Linked DNA regions of Homo sapiens. The protein of the gene in region 1 purifies or fractionates together with the protein of each later gene. This does not show direct contact. Each region holds a gene or a part of one and is shown in the gene's direction. Other genes may lie near its edges.

The links.
Region 2: the proteins of FAHD2A (region 1) and DBT purify together in Homo sapiens (affinity purification with mass spectrometry; 3 studies listed by BioGRID and IntAct, with this or other methods). This does not show direct contact.
Region 3: the proteins of FAHD2A (region 1) and MSRB2 fractionate together in Homo sapiens (co-fractionation; one large-scale study listed by BioGRID). This does not show direct contact.
Region 4: the proteins of FAHD2A (region 1) and GRHPR fractionate together in Homo sapiens (co-fractionation; one large-scale study listed by BioGRID). This does not show direct contact.
Region 5: the proteins of FAHD2A (region 1) and SPANXN3 purify together in Homo sapiens (co-immunoprecipitation; one large-scale study listed by IntAct). This does not show direct contact.
Region 6: the proteins of FAHD2A (region 1) and NENF fractionate together in Homo sapiens (co-fractionation; one large-scale study listed by BioGRID). This does not show direct contact.

Annotation. Positions count from the first base shown.
Region 1 is NC_000002.12:95,414,912-95,417,116, forward strand, and holds the end of FAHD2A (oxaloacetate tautomerase FAHD2A, mitochondrial), read left to right. Parts: 3' UTR 1-1,705; downstream 1,706-2,205. UniProt on the Homo sapiens protein: Tautomerase that converts enol-oxaloacetate, a strong inhibitor of succinate dehydrogenase, to the physiological keto form of oxaloacetate. It is thereby required to maximize aerobic respiration efficiency by preventing succinate dehydrogenase inhibition.
Region 2 is NC_000001.11:100,215,335-100,218,834, reverse strand, and holds part of DBT (lipoamide acyltransferase component of branched-chain alpha-keto acid dehydrogenase complex, mitochondrial isoform 1 precursor), read left to right. Parts: intron 1-87; coding exon 88-209; intron 210-2,635; coding exon 2,636-2,852; intron 2,853-3,500. UniProt on the Homo sapiens protein: The branched-chain alpha-keto dehydrogenase complex catalyzes the overall conversion of alpha-keto acids to acyl-CoA and CO(2).
Region 3 is NC_000010.11:23,112,579-23,116,078, forward strand, and holds part of MSRB2 (methionine-R-sulfoxide reductase B2, mitochondrial precursor), read left to right. Parts: intron 1-3,500. UniProt on the Homo sapiens protein: Methionine-sulfoxide reductase that specifically reduces methionine (R)-sulfoxide back to methionine.
Region 4 is NC_000009.12:37,425,696-37,429,195, forward strand, and holds part of GRHPR (glyoxylate reductase/hydroxypyruvate reductase), read left to right. Parts: intron 1-226; coding exon 227-299; intron 300-842; coding exon 843-959; intron 960-2,788; coding exon 2,789-2,877; exon of another isoform or gene 2,878-3,146; coding exon of another isoform or gene 3,147-3,237; intron 3,238-3,500. UniProt on the Homo sapiens protein: Enzyme with hydroxy-pyruvate reductase, glyoxylate reductase and D-glycerate dehydrogenase enzymatic activities. Reduces hydroxypyruvate to D-glycerate, glyoxylate to glycolate, oxidizes D-glycerate to hydroxypyruvate.
Region 5 is NC_000023.11:143,508,235-143,511,355, reverse strand, and holds the end of SPANXN3 (sperm protein associated with the nucleus on the X chromosome N3), read left to right. Parts: intron 1-2,193; coding exon 2,194-2,541; 3' UTR 2,542-2,621; downstream 2,622-3,121.
Region 6 is NC_000001.11:212,439,420-212,442,919, forward strand, and holds part of NENF (neudesin precursor), read left to right. Parts: intron 1-3,145; coding exon 3,146-3,206; intron 3,207-3,500. UniProt on the Homo sapiens protein: Acts as a neurotrophic factor in postnatal mature neurons enhancing neuronal survival. Promotes cell proliferation and neurogenesis in undifferentiated neural progenitor cells at the embryonic stage and inhibits differentiation of astrocytes.

The DNA of each region.
Region 1 (2,205 bases):
AAAACAAAAAACAAAACCAATAACTCAGTAAGCAGATTAAACAAAGGTAGAGACGGAGCCCTCCACCCCTCTCACACACTCATCCTCACACCCAGCTATACCACACCCCACAAATGTTGCTTATGTTTCCTTGGTCATTCTGTCCATCCTCCTGTCTGTCCAAAGCCAAGGACACTGCTCTACTCTAAATTTTTTGTCCCGAAGCCCCCAAATACTGCAACCCTGACCCAATGCACGAAGCCACCCCAAAATACAGCAGAGGACACCAGGACTTTCATTTTCCCTCAGTATGGCCCATCCTTTGGGTATGCCAACTCCATGTCCACCAAGCACTGCATGTAGGACAGGGCACAGTTTGGAGGCCTTGGTCCAGCCACTGCCCCAGACCCACCTTGGCTCTCTCCTCACTAACACCCGAGAAGCCCAGACTTCCCAGTGTTTAGCAACAGATTAAACTCTAAGCCAACAACAACAGAACAGGGTGGAGTGAGTGGAAAGCAAATGAAATGTTAAAAAAAAAAAAAAAGCAATACTTGCATTCTCATTAGTAGGAACATGTGAGATGAAGCATGTTATGTTATTAGGCATTCTCTTGATTCGGTAAACACAAGCTGAATAAATTTATAAATATCAGCATTAAGCGAGATTTAACGGGGAGCTGTTTATCTTCTGCCTGTCAGGCAGGCGGCAACACTCTCCATGTATCACTCGCCAGCCGTGCAGTCCTCACTCTCTTGCCCAGGTAAGCTGGGGAAGAGCCTGCTGCCGCCCAGCTCTGGTTGTGGAAGGGCTGGCACCAAGGAGCTGCGAGCTTACCTCAACTCATCTCACCTCACCATGCCGGCTGCGAGGCGGCCCGTGCAGTCCGTGCGCAGGAGGTCACACTCCCATGCTGCATCCCAGCCCCTCCAGAAGCAGAGCATGACCTGGGTGACTTTGAGGATGCTATTTAACCTCTCTAAGCTAAAGCTCCTCGACTGCAGCATCAACAGATCAGTGCCGACCTGTTAAGGCCGTCGAGAGCATCAAATGCTACTGTTCAGCAGGTGCCTGACACATAGTAGGTCCACAAGCAAATGATTTTCCTGCTTGCATCATTTCTAGCACAGAGCTGGAGGAAATGGCGAGGTGCAGGTGGCCGCTGGGCCCTGCTGTTCTACATGGGAGCAAGACAGCTGCTAGGTGAAGGGGAATGACCAGGCAGCCACAGGGAGGACATGTGGCCTCAGGAAGCCTGGGTGTGTATCCTGGTTCTGCTAGGAACACGTGTGGGGCTTTGTGTGGGTGACTCTCTGGCTCCCCAAGCCTCCCTTTCCTACTGTTATATCCTTAAAGTGCCTCTGAGGCCAAAGCCTTTGTGGCAATTGTCAAATGAGTCCATATGCAGTGAGTACCGTGTTGAGGGAGGACAAGGTCACCAAGAGCTGAGAATGTTTCTCCGACTGATGAGACCTAGATATTGGGTACATGGAGGTCCCCGGTCCCTTTGTGATTCCTGCAGCCTGTTGCCTCCTTGCCTGGACCCCGCCTCAGCTCAGAAAGCCAATTCCCTAGATTCCAAAGGCCTTCCCAGACCAATTAGCATGTCCTGCAGCTGTCAGCTCCCTGTGCCTAGCCTGGACCTCAGCTCATGTCTAGCACCCAGTCTCCCAACCCCACACATATTCACAAATAAAAGAAAATAACAAATGACATGAATTCTTCACTCCTGGTCTGGCTTGCTGTGTGTAAACTGCTATGACAATACAAGACGCAGAGGCGGGTACCCAATAAAAGCTGTTGAAAATGTGACTGACACCGAGTTTCAGCTATCCAGGAAGGCACGGATCCTTACAAGGTCCAAGCAGAGTCCTCGAGAATAGTTGAGAATTCTTGGGTTCCATATGAACTAGGAGATACCCACACAAAGGCTTGGATTTCCCAATACATAACTACCCCTGAACACTCCTTCTTTCCCTCGTCTCTCTGCTGAGACCTCTAGACCCTAAGGATCCACCCAGGACAACCTCTCCAAAGGTACCCTGATATGCTTTTCTTCCAGGCAGCATTTCCACAGAGCTGTGGGTGAAAGTCACAGGATGAAAATGTGCCATGGGACTGTATCTCCCACCAACACACTGCAGGCAAGGGGCACACAGAGTGCCCCCTCTGCCCATCCCAGGAATGGCCATCTAAGAATGATGCAATCTTTTCTAAAAAGAAAGT
Region 2 (3,500 bases), on another chromosome or scaffold:
AGGCCACATCTTAGTGGCCTTACTTTACATCTTAGTAAAAAAAAAAAATTTTTTTTCAACTGAAGTTAAGTTTTACCTTGTTACCAGATTCAGAAGAAGATGTTGTTGAAACTCCTGCAGTGTCTCATGATGAACATACACACCAAGAGATAAAGGGCCGAAAAACACTGGCAACTCCTGCAGTTCGCCGTCTGGCAATGGAAAACAATGTAAGTTCTCTTAATATTTAAGTCTGAGATTGTATAGGAAGTGTACATTTGTATCTCTGAAAAATTAGCCAACTATCCCATGATGAAATAGCTCAATGAAATTAAGGAAACATGAAGATATTTGCTACTGAAAAGCAATAGTTGCATAAAAATACATGGGAGAAATGAGAAGTTGTAAACTTATTACTTACTATCAATTGAGCAGTATGATTTTATTATTCTTTCTTAGAGCCTAATAACAGTAAGAGCTACCATTTACTGAGCACTTGTAAATACCAGGTCTTATGTCAGGTGCTCTAGAGGCACAGCATGAGATAGGAATTTGAAGGAGGGAAAACCTGTAAAGGGACTGAAGGAAGCAAGATAAAAAAGAGAAGAGAAGGGAAATTGGCCAGACATGGTTATGGTATCAAGCATCTGGCCTGTCCCAAAGCTTGCCATGGTCCTAAGTAAAAAAAGAAAGACTCTGGCCTGATCTGAGGGTGCAAGGGAGAACCACAGAATTACTGCTTTGAGGCAAGGAGGCCGGCCTTTTGTATTTCCTCTGCCAGTCATTGACTGAATGGAAGGTGGAATGCCAGGCAGGGTGGCTCCCTGGCACTGGGATAGGTATTTACGTATTCTCATTTAACCCTGTAAGATAAGGAGCTATTTTAAGACTTGGAGGGTTTAAGTAACTAGTCTAAAGTCACACAGCTAACATAGCAAGAGCCAGAATTCAAAAGTGAGTCTATATCACTCCAAAACCTGTGCTGTTAGATGTTATATAAACCTCAACAATCATTGCCTCCATTATTTGAGCACATATGTGCCAGACACTATAGACACATCTGTAATCCTCACAAGGACCCTGCAGGCAGGTTGATTAACTTATCTAAAACCAAGTAAGCTGAACTAGGGATTTGAACACAAATCTGTCTGGTTCTGAAACCTGAATACTTTCCACTGTGCCCCACAATGAGACTTTTTGTTTGTCTCTTTTTGAGAAAAGTAAGGTTGCTGTGGGAAAAAAATAAAAGTTTATATTTTGTGAAATATGTAATAGAGTCATTAAAATGTTCATATTCTTTCAGCCAGTTATCCTGCCACTGGGGAACTATCCCAAGAAAATAATCTAGGAATCATTCTTCCTTGTATTTTATATAGCCAAAAATTAGAAGATGCATACACATTCAAATTATGTTATGTATCCTTGATAAAATGTTATGTAACCCTTAAATGTGTTTAAGTATGAAGACCATTTAGCATAACAGAAAATAGATATAGTAACGTGGAACATTAGGTTATTAAGGGCATCAGATGAAATAATGATTTAACATTTTGCTTTGAAATCTATAAAGCATTTTAATAATTTTTTTCTTAATAATATAGAAAGAAATATATAGAAGAAATGTATGATTTGGCTTTCCTAAAACACTCCCTAAAGATGGGTATAGAATACTTGGGTAGAGTGCTTGTATGATTACTAAAAATTAAATATTGGATTTAGTTATCAGAAATCATCTTTTTTCTTTGAATTTGCATATTTATGAATTGAGTTTGTTTAAAATTAAGAACCAGTGGCATTTACAGTTGTTTGTAACTGCCTAAAAATTATTTGTTTAAATTTTCATAGTCCATTTGTTACAAACTTAGTGTTTGCCTTAGTAAAGTCCTTTATTATTTTAGTCATCCTTAGAGATGCACTAATACAAATGAAATGGGGCCTATCCCTAAGAAATTAATACATACTATATATGAGGAGATCATTCCAAGCTTTTATGTTTATTTTTATTTAAATAGAATTAAATGTTTTGTACTGATCTTTCCAAAGCAACTACCAGAAAAATAACTAATTTGAGAGAGCTTTTGTATTATGATTATTTAAGTTGTTACGTTTTTAACTGGTAGCCAGTGTCAGAAACATTGGTCTAAATTTGGTATAGCATTTAGTTTCTCTTAAATTCTCAGCTCTCCCTCTTCTTATGTAGTCCCCAAGAATAGAAAAGGTCGAGTAAGAATTATGCAAGAGATTTTAAAATACTTGAGTATAAAAATGTAAGTTTTCAGCTGGGCATAGTGGCTCACGCCTGTAATTCCAGCACTTTTGGGAGGCTGAGGTGAGAGGATAGCTTGAGGCTAGGAGTTCAAGACCAGCCAGGGCAACAGAGTGAGACCCTGTCTCTACAAAAAATTTTTTTAAAAAGTAAGTTTTCATAAATAGCTCTAGATTATATATAATATAGATACCTGATGGTTACCACATGCATATGTGAACAGTATATACAAAAGTAATGATTACTTAAGTAGAAAATGAAAAGGTTATTTCCTTTTACTAATTTATTGGACAGATATATTTTACTGTCAGTTGATCAAATTCCATTTTGAAACTTTAATGATGTTTTTAAATAGTTGTATTTTTGGCATTAAAATATATCATTTTTTAGATTAAGCTGAGTGAAGTTGTTGGCTCAGGAAAAGATGGCAGAATACTTAAAGAAGATATCCTCAACTATTTGGAAAAGCAGACAGGAGCTATATTGCCTCCTTCACCCAAAGTTGAAATTATGCCACCTCCACCAAAGCCAAAAGACATGACTGTTCCTATACTAGTATCAAAACCTCCGGTATTCACAGGCAAAGACAAAACAGAACCCATAAAAGGTAATGATAATAATAACAATACTATAAGGCAATAGTTCATTTATTTTGGGGGAAGCTACCTCAGTAGATAAATGTATATAATATGGTGTTTTCAAGTCTTACTGAAGGGAAAGTTCAACTTCAGTCAGCATATAATTTTTCTTTTCTTTTCTTTTTTTTTGAGATGGAGTTTTGTTCTTGTTGTCCAGACTGTAGTGCAGTGGCACGATCTTGGCTCACTGCAGCCTCCGCCTCCCAGGTTCAAGCAATTCTCCTGCCTCAGCCTCCTGAGTATCTGGGATTACAGGTGCACGCCACCATGCTCAGCTAATTTTTTGTATTTTTAGTAGAGACAGGGTTTCATCATGTTGGCCAGGCTGGTCTCGAACTCCTGACCTCAGGTGATCCACCCTCCTCAGCCTCCCACAGTGCAGGGATTACAGGCGTGAGCCACTGCGCCTGGCCATAATTTTTAAATGGTGAAATAGCATAGCTTTTCCAGGAAACACTTACAATTTATGTGTATCATTATCTTCTGAAGAGTAATACGTTAGCAGGTTTCTTGAAATATAAACTTGTATATTGATAATTGCTCTGTTTGAAGACACACAGGACATTTTAAACATTCACTATTTGTAGTTAGCTTTCAAAATAACTAGTTCTGATTTG
Region 3 (3,500 bases), on another chromosome or scaffold:
ATGTTTTTGTTGTTTTGTTTTGTTTTTTGAGATGGAGTCTCGCTCTGTCGCCCAGGCTGGAGTGCAGTGGCGCGATCTCGGCTCACTGCAACCTCTGCCTTCCAGGTTGAAGCGATTCTCCTGCCTCCTGAGTAGCTGGGATTACAGGCGTGTGCCACCATGCCTGGCTAATTTTTTGTATTATTAGTAGAGACGGGGTTTCACCATGTTAGCCAGGATGGTCTTGATCTCCTGACCTCAGGTGATCCACCCGCTTTGGCCTCCCAAAGTGCTGGGATTACAGGCGTGAGCCAGCGCACCCGGGCGTAATGATGTGTTCTTAAGCAATAGATCCCTCTTAGGGCTGTATACATGAATGCGCTTTTGATCCTGAGGAATTCTGGAGGATATATTCTAATTAATGAGAACATACAAATGCAGACTATATTCCTGAGACTTCTTCCTGTTCAAGAGGAGTTTTAGAAATATATTCTGGTTTTGCCTCTCATTTTCCTTCTCTTTCTGTCTCTGGTCTCCAGTCTCTATAGTAGGAAGCAGAGGTACAGAAAAAATAATTCCTTCAAATGCTTGTGTGGAGTGAAAGTGAAGGGAAAGTTGGTCAACCAAAACTAAGTAGTTCTTTTAACAAGTAAATGCAGGGCTCACTCCTTTGAGCTCCCTGCTCCAGCTTGGCTGCTTCCTGCCTGGGACTTCCCTTCATGCTGAGCTGGCCTCCTGGGATCTGCTCAGCCCCACTAATACTAATTGAAATTCCACTTATTTTTGGATCCCAGATTTCTCCTGAAACCTTCTCTGATAGCACACACCATGGGTTTTTTTTTAATCTGCTTCAAATTCCTATTAATTTATCAGTATCACACAATTTAGGACCTAATTATTCTCCTATTGGATCAAGTATTTTATTTAGTTAAGGAGATAAACTTGATTAGCTTTCGAGTCCCTTGGCCATCTTATGCTTCTTGGACAAGGCTCATGGAAGTTGTTATGGGATGAATTGTGTCTCCCAAAAAGACATGTTGAAGTCTTAATCCCTGTAAGCTGGGAATGTGACCTTATTTGGAAATAGGGTGGCTGCAGGTATAATTAGTTTAGATAAGATCATATTGGAGTAGGGTCAGCCCTAATTCCAAAATCACTGCTGTCCTTATAAGAAGAAGAGAAGCCCAGACAGAGAGGAGACAGCCATGTGAAAACGGAAGCAGAGATTGGTGATCCGCAGCTACAAACCGAAGACTGCCTACCTTAGAAGGTAGGAAGAGGCAAGGAGGGATTCCCTAGATGCTTCAGAGCCCTGTGGACACCTTGACTTTGGACTTCTATCTTCAAGATTGTGAGAGAGTACCACCCATTTTGTGGTACTTTGTTACAGCCACCTTGGAAACTAATACTTAGATGCTCCATAAGTACGTATTGATTGGTTGATTAATAATATCCATCCTGCTGCTTAGACATCATAGCAATGTTGGGACTATCAGAAGCTGTGGTTACGGGCTGAACGTGGTGACTCATGCCTGTAATCCCAGCACTTTGGGAGGCCAAGGCGGGTGGATCACTGCAGGTCAGGAGTTCGAGACCAGCCTGACCAGTATAGCAAAATCCTGTCTCTACTAAAAATACAAAAACTAGTTGGGCGTGGTAGCACATGCCTGTAATCCCAGCTACTAAGGAGGCTGAGGTAGGAGAATTGCTTGAACCCAGGAGGTAGAGGTTTCATTGAGCTGAGATTGAGCCACTGCACTCCAGCCTGAGTGACAGAGTGAGACTCCATCTCAAAAAAAAAAAAAAAAAAAGCTGTGATTATGAAATCACTGTGAAAATGTGAGGGAAGTGGCTGCAACTTCTTGAGCACTTACATGCCAGACACTGGGCTCTAGTACTTTGCAAACAATCCTCACCCTCCAATAAGGAGCTATTAAGACCCTCACTTAACAGATGTGAAAACTGAGGCTTAAAGAATTTAACTAACTTGTTCCAGGTCACTTGTCTAGTAAGTGATAGTGCAGGGATTTGGGCTCCACTGCACTCTTCTTGAGAGTGGGAAGCACCCCAGCAATGAAGGAGCCCTCTGGGCACGCGGCAGGTGCCATGCCCAGGCTCTTCATGTGCATCGTTTCGTCAGACCTCTCGGCAGCTCCCCGTAGTGTTATTATCATTCTCATTTCACGTGAGGAAACTGAGAGCTAGGAAGATGAAATAACTTGTCCAGGGTTCTGCAGCTTACAGGTAGCCAGCCAAAATATGAACCCACAGTTTTGGACTCCAGAGCCCACATTCTTCACTAGCTGAGCTTCCATTAAGCCACACGGGCAGCTCCGTTGACATAGGTGCCATCGCCTTTTGGTGCCTGCTTTCCTTATTACAGGTGTAAGTTTCCCAGAAGACATAACCAGCCTCTGAGAGTGATCCCAGCCAGTGTAACTCATGAGTTCCCTTTCCAGAGCCTTGTTCCCAGCCTCATCCACCAGACTTAGCGTCATTCTCCTCATCATCCTATAATTGTTGGAATGAGTTTGGTGCACAGTTTTGGAGAGCTTCTGCCTCTCCAAATCAGACACCTTTAATCAAAGGTGTCTGGGTCAAGAACACTTTCCAGAATGTGTTGTCACACTCCTAGGGACTCCAGACTCTCTTTCCTTAACTCGGAATGAAGTGACATTGCCCATCACTGCCACTTCCTCTCCTCCTTCTCCCTTTCTTCTTCTACATGAGCCTATTTGGAATGTGTTTATTAAAATCTATTGTGGGATCACATATTTCATGATCACAAATCTTCTTAAAATAAGAGGAAACAGAGCCTGATACTAGTTCACCTTTTACGTAATATCCTGATGTCGTATGTACCATGAGTAACTAAGTAATATTGTTAAAAACCTTCTGTATGCCCCATTCCCTCAAAGGAATAGAAATTCTTCTAAGAGGTTAGGGTTGTCAGTTATCACCAAGTGCCTGTGCTGTTGGTTTGGGACCTGTAGAACTTCCAGAAATCAAGGAAAACCAAAGCAAATAAAACGAAACAAAGTAAAAATCCCTTAGAGTATATGATTCAGAATGGTTTTAGTTCTTCAAGGGCAAACCTTACAATCTGCTAATCACTTAAATATGTATATTGGAATTTCTGATTGGCTTTAATATTTTGGTTCCCAGTCTTAACTTATATATGTTAGGCCTCTCATATTACTTGGTAAAAATCTCCCGATTCTGCTAATTGCATCAATAAAGGTTTATTGTTTCCCATAAAATGCTTTAATGAGTTTTTATTAGCCTTAGTTTCATTTATTTAAAAAATTTTATTGTATTCATAATTCTCAATCAAAATACCTTTAATGATCACTAGTTGATATATAATGTTGAGGATGGAAAGACTGGGATTAAAAGATACTTAATGATGTTTTTCCCTGAGCAGAGTGGCCAGATGAATGTTTTTGAACCCCTGGAGGAGGGTTGCAAAGAATCCGACCTGAATATGCAGACATTTCTAGTTGGACCCACAACTGCTCACA
Region 4 (3,500 bases), on another chromosome or scaffold:
AGGTGAACCCGGCTCTGCCTGTGACTGAGCCAGGCCACTTAACCTCCCTGAACTGCAGTGTCTGAGGCTGTCAAAGGGGATTATTCAGAGTTTTAACTGAAGAACAGAGATGTCAGCCTCTTATTCTAAGAAAACAATAATAAGCGGTGTCCCCATGATAGTCCCCAGTGCTGTGGCTTTGAGTTCCTCGAGGAAAGATACTAACAATGCACTTTCTGCACAACAGGGGCCAATCTCAAAGTCATCAGCACCATGTCTGTGGGCATCGACCACTTGGCTTTGGATGAAATCAAGAAGCGGTAACTGCAGCTTGGGATCTGGAGGGGGCCTAGAGAGAGGGGTGGCTATGAGAGAAAGAAGAGCTGTTGATTTGTTTTTACTGCATATCCCTCGGCCATTCAGGGAGAATGTGAGGTGGCTGATGATAGAATCTGTCCACATGTGCACAGGTCAGTTACAATAAACCCCAGCAGTCAGAAACAGTGGGTAACTTCTGTGTAGGTGGCACCCTTTCACATTCATTATCTTTTTTGATCCCCACAACAATACCTTGAAGTAGCAAAGGCAGGTGTTATTCTTTCTGTTTCAGATGAGGAAATTCAGAAAGGTTAAGTTACTTGTTCAGTCCCTGAACCCTGATCTTCCATCTTCATATCCTTCCAAAGTGGGAGATAATCTAAATAGGAATGAGGACTGCCCGTTTTTGAGTGCTCATTTATAGTTCTGAGCTTCCTGGCAGGCAGATCAAAGAGGGAGCAAAGTAACTCCATGGAAATGTCCCAGCAGTAGACATTGGTAAATATGGTTGAGGCTGATGTTACCACCAGATGTCTGATTCGTAGTGGGATCCGAGTTGGCTACACCCCAGATGTCCTGACAGATACCACCGCCGAACTCGCAGTCTCCCTGCTACTTACCACCTGCCGCCGGTTGCCGGAGGCCATCGAGGAAGTGAAGAAGTAAGTGAACGCAGACCAGGTGCGGTGGCTCACGGCTGTAATCCCAGCACTTTGGGAGGCCAAAGTGAGCGGATCATGAGGTTAGGAGTTCGAGACCAGTCTGGCCAACATAGTGAAACCCCGTCTCTAGTAAAAATACAAAAAAAATTAGCTGGGTGTGGTGGTGGGTCCCTGTAATCCCAGCTACTTGGGAGGCTGAGGCAGGAGAATCATGTGAACCCAGGAGACAGAGGTTGCAGTGAGCTGAGATCACACCATTGCACTCCAGCCCAGGTGACGGTGTGAGACTCTGTCTCAAAAAAAAAAAGAAAAATAAGTGAACGCCTGGCAGGAACGTTGGCTCTGCTCAGCACTGGATCCTGATCACTGTGCCAGTCCAGCCCACGCATAGTCCCTGACCCCAGGTGTGCCCCATTGAGTGAGGACTCAGCTAAAATAAAGCACAAAGCAGAGCTGCAATAAGGGCAGAAAGGGAAGTGGTGAGAGAAGAGGATGAGGGAGGACAAACAAGTTCTGCTGGTGGGTGAGGGCTGGCAGGGAGAGTGTGGATCAGGGAGGGCTTCACAGAATAAGTAGCAGGTGGGCGTCCGCTTGAGTCCTGAAAGCTGCAGGTCCACCATCCCTTAGATCCCAAAATCTAAAAAGCTCGGACAGCTGAAAGTTCTTTCATACTAACAGGAGACTATTTAAGGCTTTTATTTCTCCCATTTAATGTGACTTTCCTAAGTTTTGCTGCAGATGTAACACTTTTAAAACAGGCTGCTGCCCAGACACTGCAGAGGGTGATGTGTGGAATCTACCACGTGCGCCATGCTGCCTTTCTAAAGGCCAAACAGTTTTAAAATCTAGCCTGAAGGTTTCAGATCAGGGATTTCGGCCTGTATATCAAGAGTTAGAGTTGGCCGGGCACGGTGGCTCACACCTGTAATCCCAGCACTTTGGGAGGCCGAGGCGGGCAGATTGTTTGAGCCTCAGGAGTTGGAGAACAGCTTGGGCAATGTGGCAAAAGTCTGTCTCTACAAAAAATACAAAAATTAGGCAGGCGTGGTGTTACACGCCTGTAGTCCCAACTACTCGGGAGGCTGAGGTGGGAGGATTGCTTGAACCCAGGAGGCAGAGGCTGCAGTGAACCGAGATCATGTCACTGTACTCCAGTCTGGGCGACACAGCAAGACCCTGTCTCCAAAAAAAAAAAAAAAAAAAGTTGGGGGAAGCATTCCATGTGCAGATGGAGGGACTGGCCCGAGTCAAGGTGGGAGGCGTGCAAACGCAGGCTCTCACAGTGCGTGGCCAGCAGCGTGGGCCCCGGCACGGGGCATGGAGCAGAGTAGACAGTGCTGAGTCCTGCTCACTGTCCTGTCTGGGGAGTCATCACATCTACTGGAGGTGGCTCAGGGCAGGCTCCATCTCTTGCCCAGGGCAGCAGGGTGGGCCCTGTGGCTGTACTCTTTGTTGCTGCCCTAAAGTGCCAAGAGAACTTGTTTTGGAATCATAAATCCTGAGTTTGCAGCCTGTTGCTCTCAACTCTTCCCTGGTTGTGTGACCTCAGGCAAGTCACCCTTTCTGGTTTGTTTTCCCATCTGCAAAACAGGATGAGAGCCAGTAAGGCCCCTTCCCGCCCTCAAGTTCTATGTCTCTGGTGGCTTTAAAGGTGGAGTCGTTTCTGCTGCTCATCTGCAGTGCCGAGTGGCAGTGCCTCATCCCACTCTCAGTCCGTGACCTGGAGGGTGGGTTTATACCTTGGACCACAGTCAGAGGTGCCGGGTTCTCAGCGGCCCCCATCTTGGTCCAAGGCTGGGCCTCTCACCTGCCCCTCTCTCTCCCCTCAGTGGTGGCTGGACCTCGTGGAAGCCCCTCTGGCTGTGTGGCTATGGACTCACGCAGAGCACTGTCGGCATCATCGGGCTGGGGCGCATAGGTGAGGCTCCCACCGGCCCGCTTGCCCGCCCCGGCTCTCACAGCGTGGTTTGCATCCCTGGCACCACGTGTCTGAAGGCTGAGAAGACCCACATGCTGTCAGGGCACTTTGCTTGCAGTAGAGATATCTCTAATGAGGGATACAGCTTTGTAAAACACAGGCAAATACATAAATAAACCAAAGCAGGATTCCTTAAGAACTCACCAGGTGATAAAAGCAAGTTGCCTAAGGGTCAGGGGGCTTCATGATTCCGGCTCCATAAAGAACAGATGAAGACTACAAATGTGTTGGGGCCGTTAGGAGTGGTTACCGTGAGAGAGCCCATTCCCCCGACACCTACTCCGGCTTGCGTTCTGGAAGGTATGTGACTCACAAAGCCCTAACTCGGGCCGGAGGGCTCAGTGGGCAGAGTTGATCTGCAGTTCTGCAGATGAGGCAGAGACACTTTTCTTCCAGTGGCCCTTATTTGGAGAAGCCTGGCAGAAGGGCGTGAGCCTAGCCAAGCAGCTATCTATTGGTGGTTCTCTGTCATCCTGCCTGGTGCAGGGGTGCGGGTGAGGGTGGAGAGTGTGGAGAACCTGTCTAGCCAACGAACAGCCCTGCCTCTCACTAGAGAGTTGCTT
Region 5 (3,121 bases), on another chromosome or scaffold:
GAGCAGGGGCGACTTTATTTATGCCAGCTAGAAGGCATGATATCATATGGCCTGGTTTCTGCCTGTCTACAGAAGTTGCCTGATAATTCCGATTGAGGTCAGTTCTGGGGACAGCTAGGGTCCCTACTGGGTTATGAGCAGCATCTTGTTGGTGGAGGGTGTTCTCATGGACCTGGGCACCCGTAAATATGTGTTCCCTGTCCTCCAGGGTGAGGGTAGAGGAGAGGATGACATATATGTCATGCCAGGTAAGGTCATAAGATTTAGGGAAGTACAGACATTCCTTGAGGAAGGAGGTAGGATCCATTGAAAAGGAGCAAAGTCTCTTTTCAGTATGGGAGAAGTCAGCTAGGGAACTTGAATTCAGATTATGCCTTCAGTCCTTGCAACCTCCTGCAAGGGAAAGACTTTGGAAGGCCTTTGGGCATGTGTCTGGTTTTCGGCAAAAGAGCGTTGGGCGTGAGACCTGGTTTGAGGTGGAGAAGGAAGGGGGATGGAGGGTGACAGTAAGGGGGTGGAGGAGCCGGATCCGAAGGAGAAGGTGGAGGGAATGGGAGAGGGCAGGAGCCAGACGAAGGGGTTTGTTGGCCAGGTTGAAATTCAGAGGAGGAAGGCTTGTCCCGAGGAGGAGGCATTTTGGGGGGTTTCTCCTTGAGGAGGAAGATTTGAAAAGGTGAACAAGATTGGCAGGAGAGTGAGTGAGGCATGAGCGGAGATAAGCAAAGCACTTCAGATCATTTACCATTGTGTTGGAGAAAGATTTTTAGATGATGTTGAATTTGAAAGTTGAATGTTTTGTTTTTTAGAAGAGGGGAGTGAATACTCTGGATGGGAGTGAATACTCTGGGGAAAGTGAGTACCCCAGAAGGGAGTGAATACCCCAGAGGGGAGTGAGTTCTCCAGAGGGAAGTGAATACCCCAGAGGAAAGTGAGTACTGGATTCCACCTGGGAGAAGGGACCTGGAGAGTTGGGACAGCCCCATAGCTATTCATGCTCCCCAGAGGACGGAGCGGCCAGAATGGCAAGTGTTCTGAGGCTGTCCCCTGAGAAGGGAGGCTGCAGTCACCTGGTGACTGGGGAGACCTCTCACCCAGCACTGGAATTTTTTTGGAGAACAAGCAGAAATAGAAAGGAATCCAGAAAGGAAGAATAGGGAGACTCACCCACGAATTGAAGCCCAGTGTTGGATGTGATGTCCAGCAATGGGGGTGATCCTGGTTGCAGCTGCTTGGGAAGGGGAAGGAAGGAAAAATAAGATGGAGAGTTTGATCAATATCTGGAGGTTAGTCCAGGGCTGGAGAAGATGAGAGAATAGGGGAAACAGGACTGGGAACAGACAGTCCACTCAGGATCTGGAAGTAGGCCCCGGTCTAGTTTGTGCTGCTTGCTGCTTTCTGCTTTCCAGGTTGCAAGAGAAAACTTACCCATTAGAACCCAATCACCGTCCTGGGTTTTGGCACCAAAGTGTTAGGTTTTGAAGGGAAGATGAGGGTGAAAGAAAGACAGACAGAGAGGGTGCATCTCAAACAACAACACAGGAATATTGCAGACACCTGTGGAAGTGGGGGACCAGCTTAATGCCAGAGCCCACTGCCGCTTATAGCCTGGGGTACTTACAGGTATGGGTGGGAGGGAGCTGGGCAGTATGGCTTGCTGCCCAGGAGGATATTGATAAGATGTTCTTATGATCAGGTGGTTTGGCCCTTTTTCCAGTGGAATATCATTGTGGTGTTCCTTTGCAGCTGCCTGGAAAGGGGAATGAAGGAAAAATAAGATGGAGAGTTTAATCAATATCTGGAGGTTAGCCCAGGGCTGGAGAAGATGAAAGAATAAGGGGAACAGGACTTATGATAGGGATGTTTCTTTAGTTGAGCCTTTGTCCACCTTGTGGTCAGGTGGTTAGGCAGGATGTTGCTCATGGCCTGAACCCCCATGGAATGTTTCACTTTGACCAAGGTCTGCAACATAGCAAAAACTTACAAAATCATGCAGTTTGGACTAACAGGTGACTCTACCCATGCTCCTCTTCTTCTTCTGCATAGATACCTACCCTATGATTTCACCTTGTTCTTCTCTGGCACACACCCCTTCCTCCACCTGCATTCCTTCTCATAAAGCCCCCCTTGCTATCTAGTCTCTATCCTATTCACCCAAAATAATGTCTTTCTGGCCTCTCCCTATTTTCTTACCAGATGCAAGAGGTACCAAACAGAGTCTTAGCCCCCGAACAGAGTTTGAAGAACACAAAAACATCAGAATATCCAATAATATTTGTGTATTACCTCAGGAAGGGTAAGAAAATAAATTCAAATCAACTGGAGAATGAACAGTCCCAAGAGAACTCCATCAATCCAATCCAAAAGGAGGAGGACGAAGGCGTAGACTTATCTGAAGGATCTTCAAATGAGGATGAAGACCTAGGCCCATGTGAAGGACCTTCAAAGGAGGACAAAGATCTAGACTCATCTGAAGGATCCTCACAGGAGGATGAAGACCTAGGCTTATCTGAAGGATCTTCACAGGACAGTGGGGAGGATTAGTCACACATGGAGAAACCAAATTGGACAAATCATCACCACTGATGGCGATGATTACAATAAAATCAAGTTTAAGGAGCTGATGACTGTGTTTATCTCTGCCTGTTGTCTGGTGTGGGGTGGGGAAGGGAAGGGAAGAGGTAGGCATTTGAGAAGGGAGGGATATGAGGTCCTGTAGGTTGGGAGACGGACCCACAGGTTGACAGTTAGCCAGACATTGCAAATAAGGACTGGCGGAGGACTGATTCCTCAGACAAATTTTCTTCTTAAAATTTTGTCTTACAGGAGAGGAAGAAAAGGACATGGTGTTTCTTGGAGCATGTGATTGTGTAGAAGGGTGTACAAAAAGATCTGTATTCGCTGGGCATGGTGGCTCATGCCTCTAATCCCAGCACTTTGGGAGGCTGAGACTGGCAGTCACCTGAGGTCAGGAGTTTGAGACCAGCATGGGCCAACATGGTGAACCCCTGTCTCTACTAAAAAATATATAAAAATTAGCCAGGCATGGTGTCAGGCACCTGTAATCCCAGCTACTTGAAGGCCAAGGCAGGAGAATCGCTTGAACCCAGGAGGTGGAAGTTGC
Region 6 (3,500 bases), on another chromosome or scaffold:
TAATCCCAGCTACTCGGGACACTGAGGCAGGAGAAATGCTTGAACCCGGGAGGCGGAGGTTGCGATGAGCCAAGATCATGACATTGCACTCCAGCCTGGGCAACAAGAGTGAAACTCCTTCTCATAAAAAAAAAAGATTGTTTGCCGGGCGTGTTGCCTCATGCCTATAATCCCAACACATTGAGAGGTCAAGGCAGGCAGATTACCTGAGGTCAGGAGTTCTAGACCAGCCTGGCCAACATGGTGAAACCTGTCTCTACTAAATATACAAAAAAAAAAAAAAAAAAAAAATTGGCCAGGCGTGGTGACACACGTCTGTAATCCCAGCTACCCTGGAGGCTGAGGCAGGAGAATAGCTTGAACCTGGGAGGCAGAGGTTGCAGTGAGCCGAGATTGTGCCACTGCACTCCAGCCTGGGCAACCGAGCTAGACTCCGTCCCCCCCCCACAAAAAAAGAAAAGAGTGTTAGTGATAAGATGCATGTTTTTGTTTATCTTATGTATGTGAATGTTATATTTATATGGCTGTTTGCCCATAGAAAATAAGTGTCGGCTGGGCATGGTGGCTTATGCCTGTAATCCCAGCCCTTTGGGAGGCCGAGGCGGGCAGATCACTTGAGGTTAGGAGTTTGAGACCAGCCTGGCCAACATGGTGAAACCCTGTCTCTGCTAAAAATACAAAAATTATCTGGGTATGGTGGCGTGTGCCTGTAATCCCAGCTACTCAGGAGACTGAGGCAGGAGAATCGCTTGAACTGGGGAGGTGGAGGTTGCAGTGAGCCGATATTGTACCACTGCACTCCAGTCTGGGTGACAGAGTAAGACTCTGTCTCAAAAAAAAAAAAAAAGGAAAAAGAAAAGAAGTATCAAGGAGAAAGCCACAGAATGGAAGATATGACAAAATACTGGGGTTAAATGATAGCTGTAATATATTTTTAAAATTGATATAAATACATAATCCCACTTGATAAATAATCAAAGCTGAGGAATAAGGAAACCTGGTAAAGGAAAGGCGGTAAATCATCACAAAGAAAAATGCCGTCTGCTGGCTTGGAAATCCAGGCCGTTTCAAATGACCCGTGTTAGATGAGGTGGAGCAAGTGTCCACAGAGTCAATGGCAGTCCTCTAGGGCCTGTCTTTAGGAGCCGGTTTGGAGTAATAAAAGGCAGCCCTCTGCTGAGCTCCTGTGTCGTGCCTGCTAGGTATTACGTACACTCTTTTCCTCAGCATTCCCGAGGCAAGTGGGCGTTACCCTCATATGACAGGCAGAGAAGCAGGCCTGAGTGGTTATGAGGCAGTGAGGTGTGTTTCCTTGGGCAAGTTGCTTAGCTTCTCTGAGCCTCAGTAGCTCCTCTGTCTGTTAAATGGGATCATGAAAACCCTTCACCATAAGCTGCACAAGCGCAAGAACACTAAGGCCCACCCCAAAGAGAAGGCCAAGCAGCAGGTGCTTGCAGAGCCTGAGATTCCTATGGACCCAGCAGCGACTCCCACCCTCGCCTGGGCTGTGAGCCACCTGGCTGATGCCCCTGCACCTCTGATGGCACTGAGACAAAGGAGAGATCTTGTCTTGGGTGTCTTGGGACTGTACCCATCGTCCCAGCCTGAGCCCAACTTGATGGAAGCTAGAAAAGTCATGCCATCCTTTTTTGTGTAATTCTTTCTTGGTGGGGAAATTCTGAGGTAACATTTTATGCCTGCTAATAGAGCCAAAAAAAAGTGTAAAGCCCATTGTTAGTAGAACGGTGGGGAAACAGCATTGCTTACATATCTCTAGCACTATAAATGTTGTTACAGGACAAACTAATAAAATATAAACAGTGATTAAGTTTTCATATACTTAGGCCCAGGAATTCCATATATTGAAATAGGGCACTTTCCTATGCATTCACTGGGTGGAGAGAAATTTTTAAATAAAGGCCTCAATGAAATAAGTCACCAAATTAGAAAGTAATTGATAGAAACATGTATTCATAATGCTGCCATTTATAGTTCTAAGGATTGGAAACCACCCAAATACCCAAAATAGAAAGCTAGCTAAACAAATAGGTAGACAATATCACTAATATAAGATGGGGCCCTACGCCGGGCATGGTGGCTCACGTCGGTAATCCCAGCACTTTGGGAGGCCTAGGTGGGTGGATCACCTGAGGTCAGGAGTTCGAGACCAGCCTGGCCAACATGATGAAACCCCATCTCTACTAAAAAGACAAAAAATTAGCGGGGCGTGGTGGCGGGTGCCTGTAATCCCAGCTACTCAGGAGGCTGAGTCAGGAGAATCACATGAACCCGGAAGGTGGAGGTTGCAGTGAGCTGACATTGCGCCATTGCACTCCAGCCTGGGCAGCATGAGTGAAACTCTGTCTCAAAAAAAAAGATGGGGCCCCATGGAGCTGTTTAAATGACAGTCATTTTGGTGGAAATGTTTATATGAGGGAATGTTACCTGTAAGAAGCAAAATATAAAATAGATTGCTCATATCAGTCACATCCGTGTATGTCTATTGATGAAGAGGAAAGGAAATTTGGACTGATAAGTAATTCATCATTTACTATTCTTTTGAATTTTCATCTCCATGAAGTTGCTTCTGTTCCTGATTTTCTTTTTTTTGAGACGGAGTCTCACTGTGTCACCCAGGCTGGGGTGCAGTGGCATGATCTTGGTTCACTACGACCTCTGCCTCCAGGGTTCAAGCAATTCTCCAGCCTCAGACTCGCGAGCAGCTGGGATTACAGGCATGTGCCACCATGCCCGGCTAATTTTTGTATTTTTAGTAGAGATAGGGTTTCACCATATTGGCCAGGCTGGTCTTGAACCCCTGACCTCAGGTGATCCGCCCGCCTTGGCCTCCCACAGTGCTGGGATTACAGGCGTGAGTCACTGTGCCTGGCCCCTGATTTTCTCTATAAAGGAGAGAATTGCCACATTCTTGTCATGAGACTTTATGACTTTTCCAAATTTCTGTGTGCGGGCATGACGCTGCCCAGGCAGGTGGCAAGCTCGCCAAGGACCAGGCTTAACAGAAAGCCTTTGGGACTTGACCCACTGCTCTTTGCTCAGCTTGTGATGGGAGAAGATTTTACTAAGTTGCACTGGAAGAGCTGGCTCTTCCCTTCCTCTTCACAGCTTCTCCCCTGCTTTCTAGGAAGATCAGCCCATCTACTTGGCAGTGAAGGGAGTGGTGTTTGATGTCACCTCCGGAAAGGGTAAGTGGTGTGGCATTTTGAATCTTCATTTCCAGGGAGCACAGAAGCCAGAGTGAGCAGCACTTGGAGGTGTGAGGAAAGGGAGGGAACATTAGGCAAGTCCTTTTCATTCCATTTTATTTTATTTTATTTTTTGAGACGGAGTTTCACTCTGTCACCCAGGCTGGAGTGCGGTGGCACGATCTTGGCTCACTGCAACCTCTGCCTTCTGGGTTCAAGCAATTCTCTGCCTCAGCCTCCCGAGTAGCTGGGATTACAGGCACCACCACCACCGCTGGCTAATTTTTTTGTATT